Regions from separate parts of the Homo sapiens genome. Here region 2 is linked to region 1. A link means that fine-mapping ties the variant in region 1 to the expression of a gene that starts in the linked region. Tissue or cell type: stomach. Region 1 holds a variant in brackets; the other region holds the start of a gene. All regions are shown on one strand. Distances are from middle to middle.

What was found. PIP is the estimated chance that this variant, and not a neighbour inherited with it, causes the effect.
Region 2: RGL3 starts here. The variant in region 1 is fine-mapped to the expression of RGL3 in stomach (GTEx, PIP 0.91).

Annotation. Positions count from the first base shown.
Region 1 is chr19:11,388,916-11,396,614 of GRCh38, forward strand. It overlaps RGL3 (ral guanine nucleotide dissociation stimulator like 3), which reads right to left. Exons shown (of 19, transcript NM_001035223.4): 19 at 5,145-5,605. The coding sequence ends at 5,487. Among named protein-coding and RNA genes, the nearest start is that of EPOR, 8.5 kb to the left of the region's middle. The variant G/A (reference allele first, on the strand shown) is at 3,055.
Region 2 is chr19:11,415,823-11,421,734 of GRCh38, forward strand. RGL3 (ral guanine nucleotide dissociation stimulator like 3) reads right to left here and starts at 3,492. Exons shown (of 19, transcript NM_001035223.4): 1 at 3,424-3,492; 2 at 2,849-2,962; 3 at 1,014-1,237; 4 at 792-845; 5 at 115-326. The coding sequence starts at 3,456. It overlaps ODAD3 (outer dynein arm docking complex subunit 3), which reads right to left. Exons shown (of 13, transcript NM_145045.5): 11 at 5,855-5,912; 12 at 5,306-5,390; 13 at 4,783-5,125. The coding sequence ends at 5,013. RefSeq lists an enhancer at 5,552-5,601.

The DNA.
Region 1 (7,699 bases):
CAAGACACTGTCTCTAAAAATAAATAAATAAGTAAATAAATAAATAAAATGTATAAAGTGAAAATAATGTCTACTCCATAGAGCTATGGTAAGGATTAAATTAGATTGTGTCAAGTTCTTTTTCTTTTTCTTTTTTTTTGAGATGGAGTTTCGCTCTTGTCACCCAGGCTGGAGTGCAATGGCACAATCTCGGCTCACTGCAACCTCCGCCTCCCAGGTTCAAGTGATTCTCCTGCCTCAGCCTCCCGAATAGCTGGGATTACAGGCATGTACCACCACACTCCGCTAATTTTGTATTTTTAGTAGAGACGGGTTTCTCCATGTTGAGGCTGGTCTCGAACTCCTGACCTCAGGTGATCCGCCCGCCTCGGCCTCCCAAAGTGTTGGGATTACAGGCGTGAGCCACCGCGCCTGGCCCCTGTGTCAAGTTCTTAAAACAGTATCTTGACATACAATAAGCATTCAGTAAGTATAGCAATTTGCTTAAACTAGTTCAAGAAGGATGCTGAACTAACATCCAAATGATCTTAAGAGGCTGGATGCGGTGGCTCATGCCTGTAATCCCAACACTTTGGGATTTGGGAGACAGAGGAAAAAAATACCCATTTGGGCAAAAAATATCCAAATTGTCTTAAGGTCTTTCTTTTCTTTTTCTTTTCTTTTCTTTTTTTTTTTTTTTTTGAGACAAAGTCTTTCTTTGTCACCCAGGCTGGCGTACAGTGGTGCAATCTCGGCTCACTGCAACCTCCGACTCCCGGGTTCAAGCGATTCTGTCCTGCCTCAGTCTCCTGAGTAGCTGGGATTACAGGCGTGCACCACCACGCCTGGCTAATTTTTGTATTTTTAGTAGGGATGGGGTTTCACCATGTTGGTCAGGCTGGTCTCGAACTCCTGACCTCATGATCCACCTGACTCGGCCTCCCAAAGTGCTGGATTACAGGCATAAGCCACTGTGCCTGGCTGGTCTTAAGGTCTTAATACTCACAGAAGACCAAAATTTAAAAAAAGCCTGTAAAGGAGCGGCAAGGCACAGTGGCTCACACCTGTAATCCCAGCATTTTGGGAGGCCAAGGCAGGTGGATCATCAGGCCAGGAGTTCGAGACCAGCCTGACCAAAATGGTGAAACCCCGTCTCTACTAAAAATACAAAAATTAGCCAGGCGTGGTGACACACGCCTGTTATCCTACCTACTCAAGAGGCTGAGACAGGAGAATCGCTTGAACTGGGGAGGCGGAAGTTGCAGTAAGCCAAGTTCTCGCCATTGCACTCCAGCCTGGGCGACAAAGCAAGACTCTGTCTCAAAAAAAAAAAAAAAAAAAAGCATGTTGTGTGCTAGTAATTGGTCTTTCATCAGACCTTATATGATACTTAAATTTCTGTATCTCTACTCCCAACCCACATAATTCCTGGGCATTCCTCATTATTGCTCCAGGGATAATGTTTGAAAACCTAGTGATTATTTTTTGCCCATTCACCAGAACTCCCCCTTCTCCTCATAACAGCCCCCACATTTAATGTCCACTTATGGACTCTCCCAGGCTCCACCCCTGTGATTCAAAGTTTCTGTGCCAGCTCAAAGGGTGGGCGCAGGACCCAGGCCTGGCTAATCAGCACATCTCATTCCCCTGAACACAGTGATTGGTTTAGAGGTGGACACATGACACAAATTGGCCCAATGGGCGCCTGCTCTGGGACTTTTTGCTGGAGCTGATGGGAAGGAGGGGCTCTGCTTGCATGGGATGGGGGAGCTGTTGGGATATAAGCCTATGCCTCCACAAGGTATGAGCCTGCCTTGGAGTAGAGCTATATATATATATATGTGTGTGTATTTTTTTTTTTTTTTTTTTTTTTGTAGAGACGGAGTCTTGCTCTGTCTCCCAGGCTGGAGTGCAGTGGAGCGATCTCGGCTCACTGCAACCTCCGCCTTCCAGGTTCAAGCAATTCTCTCGCCTCAGCCTCCCAAGTAGCTGGGATTACAGGTGCATGCCACCACACCCAGCTATGAGTACAGCTATATTAAATAAAATATTATTTGGGCTACTGTAACAGCAACTCAAATAATAGTGGCTTAAGTAAGATAAAAATTTATTTCTCTTTTATGTAACACTCCAAGTATCAACAGTCCAATATGGTAGCTCCCTGGTCTCATAGGCCCAGGCTCCTTCTAGCTTGTTGCTCAGCTATTCAGACAGTGTGAACCACCTAATCCAAAATGATCCACTCCACGTCTTCATTCCCACCAGCAGGAGGGAGGAAAGGGGGAAAAGAAGGACACACCGCTTCCCTTTAAGGGCAGGTTCTGAAATTTGTTCACATCCTTTCCCTTTATATCTTATTGGCCAAGACTTAGCCAGTGGCCAGATATGACCACACCTTGCTGCAGAGGAGGTGGGAAATATGGCTTTTACTTTGGGAGGCCAGCTAAAAATCAGTGGTTCCATTACCATAGAAGAAGGTGATTAAATTTGAGGGGACAATGGACTATCTCATTCTCAGAGCAAATCAGAGCAAAGAGACAGCAAGAAAACCCTGATGACATCTTATGAGTGCCTGGATGCAACTGTGCCTGAAGCCCTACTCATTGGACATTTCAACTGCATAAGCCACAAATGTCCTTTTTTGCACATGCCTCTTTGAATTGGGTTTTTGGTCGCTTGCAACAGAAAGAACTCGATTAGTGCAATGAGATGTAAAGACCATAGCTGATGTTCTCTGCTGAGTAGGAGCTCATAAGTGGGCATATTATTGTGGTTGTGACTATGTAGCAGTTCGCCCTACAGCTCATTTCATCCTCTCTATTGTACTCCAACGCTGACAGAGAGCTCACGCCTCTCTTTTCATCCTCACAATCCTTTTCTTTTTCTTTTTTTTTTTTTTCCAGACAGAATTTTGCTCTTGTTGCCCAGGCCGGAGTGCAGTGGAGCGATCTCGACTCACTGCAACCTCTGCCTGCCTGGTTCAGGTGATTATCCTGCCTCAGCCTACCGAGTAGCTGGGATTACAAGAGCCTGCCACCATGCCCGGCTAATTTTTTGTATATTTAGTAGAGAAGG[G/A]GTTTCACCATGTTGGCCAGGCTGGTTTTGGAATCCTGGCCTCAAGCAATCCACCCGTCTTGCCCCCCCAAAGTGCTAGAGCCACTGTGCCCAGCATTTTTTTTTTTTTTTTTGAGATACAGTCTCACTTTGTCACGCAGGCTGGAGTGCAATGGCATGATCTCGGTTCACTGCAACCTCCACCTTCTGGATTCAAGCAATTCTCCTGCCTCAGCCTCCTGAGTAACTGGGATTACAGGCACCCACCACCATGCCCAGCTAATTTTTATATTTTTTAGTAGGGACAGGGTTTTACCATGTTGGCCAGGCTGACCTTGAACTCCTGACCTCAAGTGATCCGCCCACCTCAGCCTCCCAAAATGATGGGATTACAGGTGTGAGCACTGCGCCTGGCCCTTTTTTTTGCTTTTTGAAACAGGATCTCGCTCTGTCACCCAGGCTGGAGTGCAGTAATCTCGGCTCACTGCAACCTCCACCTCTTGGGCTCAAGTGATCCTCGTGCTTCAGCCTCCAGAGTAGCTGAGACTACAGGTGCAGGACACCAAACCTGGCTAAATTTTATTTTATTTTTTGAGATGGAGTCTCCCTCTGTCGCCCAGACTGGAGTGCAGTGGTGCGATCTCGGCTCGCTGCAAGCTCCGCCTCCTGGGTTCACGCCATTCTCCTGCCTCAGCCTCCCGAGTAGCTGGGACTACAGGCGCCCGCCACCACGCCCGGCTAATTTTTTTGCATTTTTAGTAGAGACGGGGTTTCACCTAGCCAGGATGGTCTCGATCTCCTGACCTCATGATCCGCCTGCCTCAGCCTCCCAAGTGCTGGGATTACAGGCGTGAGCCACCGCGCCTGGCCAATCTTTGTATTTTTTTGTAGAAATGGGGTCTCACTATGTTGCCCAGGCTGGTCTCAAACTCCTGGGCTCAAAATCCTTCCACCTTAGCCTCCCAAAGTGCTGGGATTACAGATGTGAGCCACCACACCCAACCTCTTTTTCTCTTCTTTGCACAGATGGGTTATCTGTGACAGGAAGAGGAAGAAGGTGAGGGCAAGTGAAAGGGCCCATCCTCACAGCCCTTATTGACTCATGGGTAATGATGCTATTTGTTTCTAATTCTGATGGAATTTCAGTTAGTCACTCTCCCATATATACAGTAGAAAAGAGGCATATCACCCCAAAAATGTTGGGGAAGGAAGTCCTAAACCCTCTTTGTGTGATAGGATCCTTTATTTATTTATTTAGTGAGATGTGATCTCACTGTATTGCCCAGGCTGCTCTCGGACTCCTGAACTTAAGCAATCCTCTTACCTCAGCCTCCCAAAGTACTGGGATTACCCTCCTGAGCCACTGTGTCCGGCCAGACAGGATCCTCTCTGGCATCTGGGTTGAGTGTCATACCCGACTCAACACCTTTCTTAGGGCTCTTAGTTTTTTTGTTTTTGAGACAGGATCTCCCTCTGTCCTCCAGGTTGGAGTGCAGGGGCCCAGTCACTGCTCACTGCAGCTTCAACCTCCCAGGGCTCTGGTGATTCTCCCAGCTCAGCCTCCCAAGTAGGTAGGATTACAGTCTCATATCACCACACTCAGAAAATTTTTTGTTTGTTCATTTGTTTGTTTGTTTGTTTTTGAGATAGGGTCTTGCTCTGTCACCCAGGCTGGAGTACAGTGGTGTGATTTCCACTCACTGCAACCTCCACCTTCCGGGTTCAAGCAATTCTCCTGCCTCAGCCTCCCCAGTAGCTGGGATTACAGGTGCATGACACCACGCCCGGCTAATTTTTTGTACTTTTAGAAGATGGGGTTTTGCCATGTCGGCCAGGCTGGTCTCGAACTCCTGACCTCAGGCGATCTGCCTGCCTTGGCCTCCCAAAACGCTGGGATTACAGGCGTGAGTCACCACGCCCAGCCAAATTTTTGTATTTTTTGTAGAGACAGGATCTCGTTATGTTGCCCGGGCTGGTCTTGGCTCTTAGGTTTCTCTCTCTCTGTGTGTTTGTGTGTGTGTGTGTGGGTGTGTGTGTGGTAGCTGTTTTCCTTTATCTTGATAAAGGGTGAACATGGCACACAGGCGCAAAATAAACAAGACTGACACCTGTTTCATAACTCTGGTCACTATTTTCATCCGCATCTGTCACTTCTGATGCGTCTCTAACATTTATAAGATTTCTCTGGGGAGGGATTTGACGTATCCATGCCCCACCTCTTTCTACATTTATGGGATTGAGCTCTCCACCAGCCACCCATGGGCTGATGTCTTTGGAATATGGATCTAGTACCAACAGAGTCAGAAAAAGAGATGGGGTCCAATGGGCTACAGTTGGGTGGTGGTCCTGGGATACACAGCACAGTGGCCTCTACTGGGGGATGGCAGCTTTCCAGGAGAAGAGTCGCAAGCTTGCCTGTGGGACTTGTGTCTTGTGGAGAGGACAGGGCTGCCTCAGCTTGGGGAGACAGACAGAGTGTTCCGGGTCCCCTCTTTCCGCCGCAGCATGAAGTCTCTGGGGGCGACTGGACTCATGGCATAGAAGACGTTGGCATTGTCAGGAATCAGGAGCACTGGTCAGGAGTGGAGATGGTGGTAATAGGCCCTCACAACCTTGTGTCACCCCCACAGAGGACCCGGGAGCCTCCTGCCACTCACCCGCGAACCTGAACAGCCATGGGTCCCTCTGCAGCTACTGCCAAGCCAAGCTCATTCTGCTGTCACTGGGAACCTGGACGACTTCTCACTTGAAAACTTGCACCACCTCATGCCTTCCCTTATCATAAGCCTGGGCAACCTCCTAATATTCTCCCCCTCACCATAGAGACAAGGCAACCTGCAGTAAAAGTTTGAGCAAACTGGCCGGGCGCGATGCCTCGTGCCTGTAATCCCAGCGCTTTGGGAGGCCGAAGTGGGTGGATCACTTGAGGTCAGGAATTCGAGACCAGTCTGGCCAACATGGTGAAACCCCGTCTCTACTAAAAATACCAAAAAAATGAGCTAGGCATGGTGGCACATGCCTGTAATCCCAGCTACTCGGAAGGCTGAGGCAGGAGAATCTCTTGAACCCAGGAGGTGGATGTTGCGGTGAGCCGAGATCCTGCCATTGCACTCCAGCCTGGGCAACAGCACGAGACTCCATCTCAAAAAAAAAAAAACAAAAACAAACAAAACCGACAACCTGCAGTAAAAGTTTGGGCAAACTTAGACCACCCTAGACCACCCCCCGCCAAACAACTTCCTGCTCACCCTACCCCTCCCCCACAACCACTCCCAGCCAATCCCATGCTGCTGTCACCATGAACTTGAATAACTTCCCACTTCCAGCCTGCACGAGCTTGTGGCCTCACACTCAACACCTGAACAACCACAAGCATCCTTTCCTAATATCCAGCCAACCTCATGCCATGTACTTCAGCGTGAATACGCTCAATCCCTTGCTTCTCCCTGTCAGACAGGACAATCTCATGCTTCCGCGGCTATCCATTTGCCTCTCTCCCGTCCCAAGTTCAGATAACTTCAGGGTCCCAGTGGTGAACAAACTTAGTTCTCACAAATCTAAGCCCAGATGCCCTTTAGTCTCCCATCCCATCAGGTTGAGCCTGAACAATCTCATGATGCTACAAACTTAAGATCAGACAAACTTCTACACTCCCTTCTCTCACTCGACCCTAGACAATCTATTTTTTCTTTTTTTTTGAGACGGAGTCTCACTCTGTCGCCAGGCTGGAGTGCAGTGGCGCAATCTTGGCTCACTGCAACCTTCACCTCCTGGGTTCAAGTGATTCTTCTGCCTCAGCCTCCTGAGTAGCTGGGACTATAGGCGCCTGCCACCATGCCTGGCTAATTTTTTGTATTTTTAGTAGAGACGAGGCTTCACCATGTTGGCCAGGATGGTCTCGATCTCTTGACTTCGTGATCCACCCGCCTCGGCCTCCCAAAGTGCTGGGATTACAGGCGTGAGCCACCATGCCCGGCCCCCTTTTTTTTTTTTAATTGAGACAGGGTCTTGCTCTGTCACCCAGGCTGGAGTGCAGTGGCGTGATCTCAGCTCGCTGCAGCCTCCACCTCCTAGGCTCAAGTGATCCTCCCACCTCAGCCTCCCCAGTAGTTGGAGTTGGGAATACAGGCACATGCCACCATGCTCAGCTAATCTCTCTCTCTCTCTCTCTCTCTCTCTCTCTCTCTCTATATATATATATATATATATATTTTTTTTTTTTTTTTTTTTTTTTTTTTGAGACAGAGTCTTGCTCAGTCGCCAGGCTGGAGTGCAGTGGTGCGATCTCGGCTCACTGCAACCTCCGCCTCCTGGGTTCAAGCGATTCTTCTGCCTCAGCCTCCCGAGTAGCTGAGACTACAGGCATGTGCCACCATGCCCAGCTAATTTTTTTGTATTTTTAGTAGAGACGGGGCTTCACCATGTTGGCCAGGCTGGTCTCGAACTCCTGACCTCAAGTGATCCACCCGCTTTGGCCTCCCAAAGTGCCGGGATTACAGGCGTTGAGCCACCGCACCCAGCCAATTTCTCTATTTTTTGTATAGATGGGGTCTCCTCATGTTGCCCAGGCTGGTCTCAAACTCCTGAGCTCAGACAATCCACCCACCTTGACCTCCCAAAGTGCTGGGATTACAGTTGTGAGCCACCATGCCCAGCCCATCCTACA
Region 2 (5,912 bases), 26 kb after region 1:
AGTTTAAAATCTTGCTTAAGTTTTGTAGCTCTGAGAGGGGAGAGAAAGCCTGTGTGGGAAGAAGCAGACAGGAAAGGCCTTCTCAGAACACGACTGGATCTGAAAACCCCTCACCTGTCCACACCTGAGGCGGCTCCTCTTCCTGCTCTCGCTCAGCCTCCTCCAAAAAATCTTCCAGAAGCTTCTCTGCTTTTTGAGCCTCAGCACTCCCTGGGGCCGCCCAGCCCAGAAAGGTTCGGACACTGCCCAGGTCCGAATGGGCAGGGTGGTCTCGGAAATCCTGAGGGTGGTCCTGCAGCCAGGAGCCCAGCACTGACACCACAGCCCTGGCCAGAGAGGCAGGGTCTCAGAGCTGGGTCCAGAGTGGGGGACATAGAATATGACTCCTGGTACCTTTTTTTTTTTTTTTTTTTTGAGATAGAGTCTTACTGTGTCACCAAGGCTGCAGTGCAATGGCCTGATCTTGACTCACTGCAACCTCAGCCTCCCGAGTAGCTGGGACTACAGGCATGCGCCACCACACCCAGCTACCTTTTTTTGTTGTTGTTGTATTTTTAGTAGAGACAGGGTTTCGCCATATTGGCCAGGATGGTCTCTAACTCCTGACCTCCAGTGATCCACCTGCCTCGGCCTCCCAAAGTGTTGGGATTACAGGCATGAGCCACCACGCCCCACCTGACTCCCAGTCTCTTATTACCCAACCTGCAATTTTCAAAACCCCAGTCCGACTGCTAACCTTTGACCTCTTGGATTTCCCTCCCCGCACTCCCCTATCTGGATGAAGGACCCACCTCAGGTTCTTGTTGAAGCTCAGATCTTGTACCGCTGTCTTCTTGATCTCTACCCTGGGAAGAGGCCCCCCAGCAGGTGAAGAAGGGGGAACCTAGAGGGGGCTTAGGAAGAGGGCTCTGGGTCTGGGAGGTGTTTCCAGGTTCCACACCTGAGGAGGTGGAGGGGGGTGCCCAGTTGGGGTTCTAGGGTGGAGAATACGGAGGTTATGGTTCGCTACTGACCCGGGAGGTGGGGGCGGTGGCATTGGTGGCAGCAGAAAGCCCAGCAGGCAGGCAGTGGGTACAAAGGTCCGGTAGGTGGCCAGGAAGGCGGGCATGAAGCTGGGGTCCTGCTCACGGTCTCCAAACACCAACTCTCCCACCAGCCGCTCCAGGCGCGCTGCCCTCAGCACCCTCACCTTGCTGGTTCGATAGTGGAGGAAGGTATTGGCAATGGGGCTGGGAGCCTGCAGGAGGGGAGAGGTGGCCATGAGAGAGCAGGAGTGGTCCTCACAGCACCCCTTCTCTAGTCACATTCATCACTAGCACCACTCTTTTTTTTTTTGTTTTTTTTTTTGAGACAGAGTCTCACTCTGTTGCCCAGGCTGGAGTGCAGTGGCACGATCTTGGGTCACTTCAACTTCTGCCTCCTGGGTTCAAGCAATCCTCCTTCCTCAGCCTCCAAGTAGCTGAAACTACAGGCGCACACCACCAAGCCCAGCTAATTTTTGTATTTTTGTAGAGATAGGGTTTCACCATGTTGGTCAGACTGGTCTCGAACTCCTGACCTCAAGTAATCTGCCCCCCTTGGCCTCCCAAAGTCTCCCAAAGGGCTAGGATTACAGGCGTGAACCACCGTGCCCAGCCCCTAGCACCACTTTTTTTTTTTTTTTTTTGAGACAGAATCTCACTCTGTCACCTAGGCTGGAGTTCAGTGGCGTGATCTTGGCTCACTGCAACCTCCGCCTCCTGGGTTCAAGCAATTCTCTGCCTCAGCCTCCCAAGTATCTGGGATTACAGGCACCCGCCACCAAGCCCAGCTAGTTTTTTCGTATTTTTAGTAGAGACGGTGTTTCACCGTCTTGGCCAGGTTGGTCTTGAACTCCTGACCTGATGATCCACTTGCCTCGGCCTCCCAAAGTGCTGGGATTACAGGCGTGAGCCACCTCGCCCCGCCTGTAGCACCATTCTTTCATGTGATTCCTCTGTCTCCCGGCTTCTTGGAGTTATTGTTTTGGTTTGTTTTTTTTAGAAACAGGTCTTGTTTTGTTGCCCAGGCTGGGGTGCAGTGGCACAATCATAGCTCACTGCAGCCTCCAAGTCCTAGACTCAAGCGGTCCCTCTGCCCCAGCCTCCTGAGTAGCTGGGACCACTGCTGGGCATCATCACGCACAGCTAGTTTTTTAATTTTTATTTTTATTAGAGAGAATCTTGCTGTGTTGTCCAGGCTGGTCTCCAATTCCTGGCCTTCTGCCTTGGTCTCTCGAAGCGCAGGGATTATAGGTGTGTGCCCCACTCCCTGCCCGCTTGAAGTTATTGTTCCTCCCCATCCACAAATAGCTCCTGCAACTTGCCCTGGAAACCCTCCCTCTCCCATGCCCTGTCCCCTACTCCCTCTCCCGTCCCCTCCCCCTCCCGTCCCCTCCCCCCACCCCCCCGCCCCCGCCCCACACACTCTTTTCCACCCAGGGCTTCCCTCAGCCCTCCTGTCGCGCTTCACTGGCTGCCCCATCCGCCCTCACCTAGCCACTTCTAAACCAACCCCATTCCACCTTCCAGCCCCGGCCCTCTAAACCTGCCTTTCCCAACTCTGCCGTCCAGTTCTGTCCTTACCAAGTTGTCCCTAGGCTCCTCTCGGGAACTGCGCGGCCATCGCCTGGCCCCACCCCATTCCCTGGATCTCCCCCCACTTACCTGGCCGCCCCCAGTCCCCTTTCTACCTGGTCGCCTCATCTGGTCGCCTCCGAGCCCCTCCCTTCCTTCCGCCCACTGCACCTGGCGGCCTGTGCTCGGCTCTCCAGCTCCGCCCTCAACTGGTCGCTTCCGGCCCCGCGCCACCCACCAAACCCCCTCCTCACCTGGCTGCCCCCGGGGCCCTCCGCCGGGCTCCTGCGCTGACTGCGCTGCCGCCGCAGGGAGACACTGTACACCGCGCCGTCCTCGGTCTCTTCACCCCAGTCCTGCAGCGGTGCCTGGACGCACAGGCGGACTCAGGGCACCAAAGGGGCACAGGTCCTGGGGCCTCAGCCTCCTTGGCCGCTCGGACTCGGGCCGAGTCCTCCTGCTGCATCCCCACGCCCCTTCCCGGCCAGAAGCTGCGAGACTAGGGCTGGGGTCCCAGGCTAGTCCCCTCCTCGCTGCGGGTCCCCTCCTCCCAGGTCCTGAGGACATGGGGTGGCATTTGGGGATGTCCCAGGGCCCAGTCTAATAGAACCTGTCTCTAGCTCTTTCTGCCGACTGCGCTCAGAGACTCGCGCCCCCATCCCTAAGAGGAACCAGTCGCTTCACTGGGTCAAGGGCCGCGAGTCCCCAGGAGGGGACTCCAGGGCAAGTTCAGATTGGGAGCAGATACCGTCCGACGGGCGGGCGCTTGGAGTTTCTGGACCTGCGGGTCACCAGGGATGCGGGGTCCGGGGATCCCTTGTCCCCTTACCAGGGCCAGCTCTTTGCCTGCTGTGCGCTCCATGGCCGGCGCCCGTCCCTCTCAGTGGCGCCGCTGAGTGAGGCGGAAGGGCCGGCGGGTGGCGGGTGGCGGGCGGCGGGCAGTGGCCGGGCGCTGAGGCCAGAGGGGCGGAGCGGCCGAGCTGCTGGGGCGGGGCGGGGCAGGGCAGGCCGGACCCAGCCTCTGGGTGCCTCCAGCCGGACCCAGCGCCAGCCCAGGAGAGGTCCTGGCTCTTCCGCTGGGTGCCTATCAATCTGTCCCCAGAAGAAAGGACATATCTGTCCCCAAGGGGTCTTTTTTGTATCCCCAGATGTGGGGGAGCTCCTGTGTGGGGGCATGTGTGTGTCCCCAGACCAGAGTCCTCTGTCCTCCAGTGGAAGGGGCTAGCTTGATCAAGTGTGGGGGCATCTTCCACTTTTTATTATTATTGCTATTATTTTGAGATGGAGTCTCGTTCTGTCACCCATGCTGGAGTACAGTGGCTTGATCTTAACTCACTGCAACCTCCGCCTCCCAGATTCAAAGGATTCTTGTGCCTCAGCCTCCCAAGTAGCTAGGATTACAGGTGCCGCCACCATGCTCAGCTAATTTTTGTATTTTTTGTAGAGGCGGGGTTTTGCCATACTTGCCAGGCTGGTCTCAAACTCCTGGCCTCAAGAGATTCGCCCACCTCAGCCTCCCAAAATGCTGGGATTACAGGCATGAACCACGGCGCCCAGCCTTATTATTTTTTAGAGACAGGGTCTCACTCCTGTTGCCAAGGCTGCAGTGCAGTGGCTTGATCTTGGCTCACTGCAATCTCCGCCTCCTGGGTTCAATCCATTCTCCTGCCTCAGTCTCCCAAGTAGCTGGGACTACAGGCATATGCCACCATGCTCAGCTTTTTTTTTTTTTTTTTTTTTTTTTTTTTTTTTTTTGGTAAAAACTGGTTTTCACCATGTTGCCCAGGCTAGTCTGGAACCCCTGGGCTCAAGCGACACACCCAGCTCAGCCTCCCAAAGTGCTGGGAATATAGGTATGAATGAGCCACTGCACCCCGCCCTTATTTTATTTATTGAGACAGGGTCTGGCTCTGTGGCCCAGGCTGGAGTGCAGTAGCACGATCATAGCTCACTGCAGCCTGGAGCTCCTGGACTCAAGTGATCCTCCCAACTCAGCCTCCCAAAATACTGGGATTACAGGCATAAAACCACTACATCGGGCCATCTCCCATTTTTAAGCTCCATCTGCGTCACTAGCTGATGGGAGTCATCATGACCCAGGTTGGAGGAGGCAGTCTGTGGCCCTGGGTTTTCAGGGACAGCCGTCTCTTGGGTGGTGCAGGGTCAAAAACAGATGAATACCCAGGGGCATGGTCGGTAACATTTATTGCGCAACTCTGAGGCCGGGGCGGACCCAGCTGGGGAGATTTACTGTGGGAACGTCTGGCCCGGCCCCTTCCTCCCCTCCGGGCGCCGCTGGCCGCCTCCGTTCCCGGTCCGGGCCGCGTTCAGCCCCTGAAGGGGCCCCGTGGGGCCTGCGCTAGACCCGGAGGGATCGGGGGCTCCGAAGGGGGCCGCCTGGTGGGTGTCAGGACGAGTCTAGGACCTCCGAGAGCGACGGTGCTTCTTGTGACTTTCGATTAATTTCTGGGAACGGATCTTGAGTGATGCGCGGGTCACTACCTCGTTGTCCTCCTCCTCACTCTCTTCGTCTAAGGGGGGTGGGGGGATGAGCAGGGAGCGATGTGGGATCCAGGTCCCCATCCCTGGCTCCCCTTCCCTTTACCACCCCACTCCACCCCCACCTTGGCCCTGAACAGGGTATCTGACAACCTCCTGCTACCCAGCTTGGGGCCCCAACCGCACCCCTTCATCCCCCCACCCATACTGACCAAAAAACTTGTCCTTGGAAGTGGCAAGGGGCAGGGCGATGCGGGTGTTGTATTCGGGCAGCCTTCCCTCTAAGCTGGCGAGGAACTAAGCGGGGATGGGAAGCGAGAGAGGAAGGTGGGCGGGGCCAGGGGCCACCGAGAAGTCACGTTCCCCCTCCTCCCTACCCCATTCCGAGATATGCCCTAGTTCCAACTGGAGACCACTGCCCACTCCCATCCCTCCTTAAGCAGGCACCTTGATACCCAGCTTCACCCCCTCATCACTCAGGTCCGCCCCTGGTCTCTGGGGCCCTGCCACTAGGCCTCTCCCCATCCGGATACCCCAGCCGCGTCCTCTAGCCTCACAGGACCCGCCTGCACCTCTTCTGGTTTCTTCCCTCGTGGCTCGGGCTCACCCCTGGCTCGTCAAACCTCGCCCGTTGTCCCCGAGACCCCTTCCTGGCTGATCAGCCTGCAATCTGGTCTCCCGAAGTTGCCCCCGGTTCCCTGGTTTTCCGACCCAGCCCTACTCCTAGATCTCTGGAGCTCTGCCCCATGGCTGCAGGGCACCTCGCGGTTAGCGATGTGGCACAGCATCTCCTGCACGTCGTGGCCCTGGAGCTGCGCC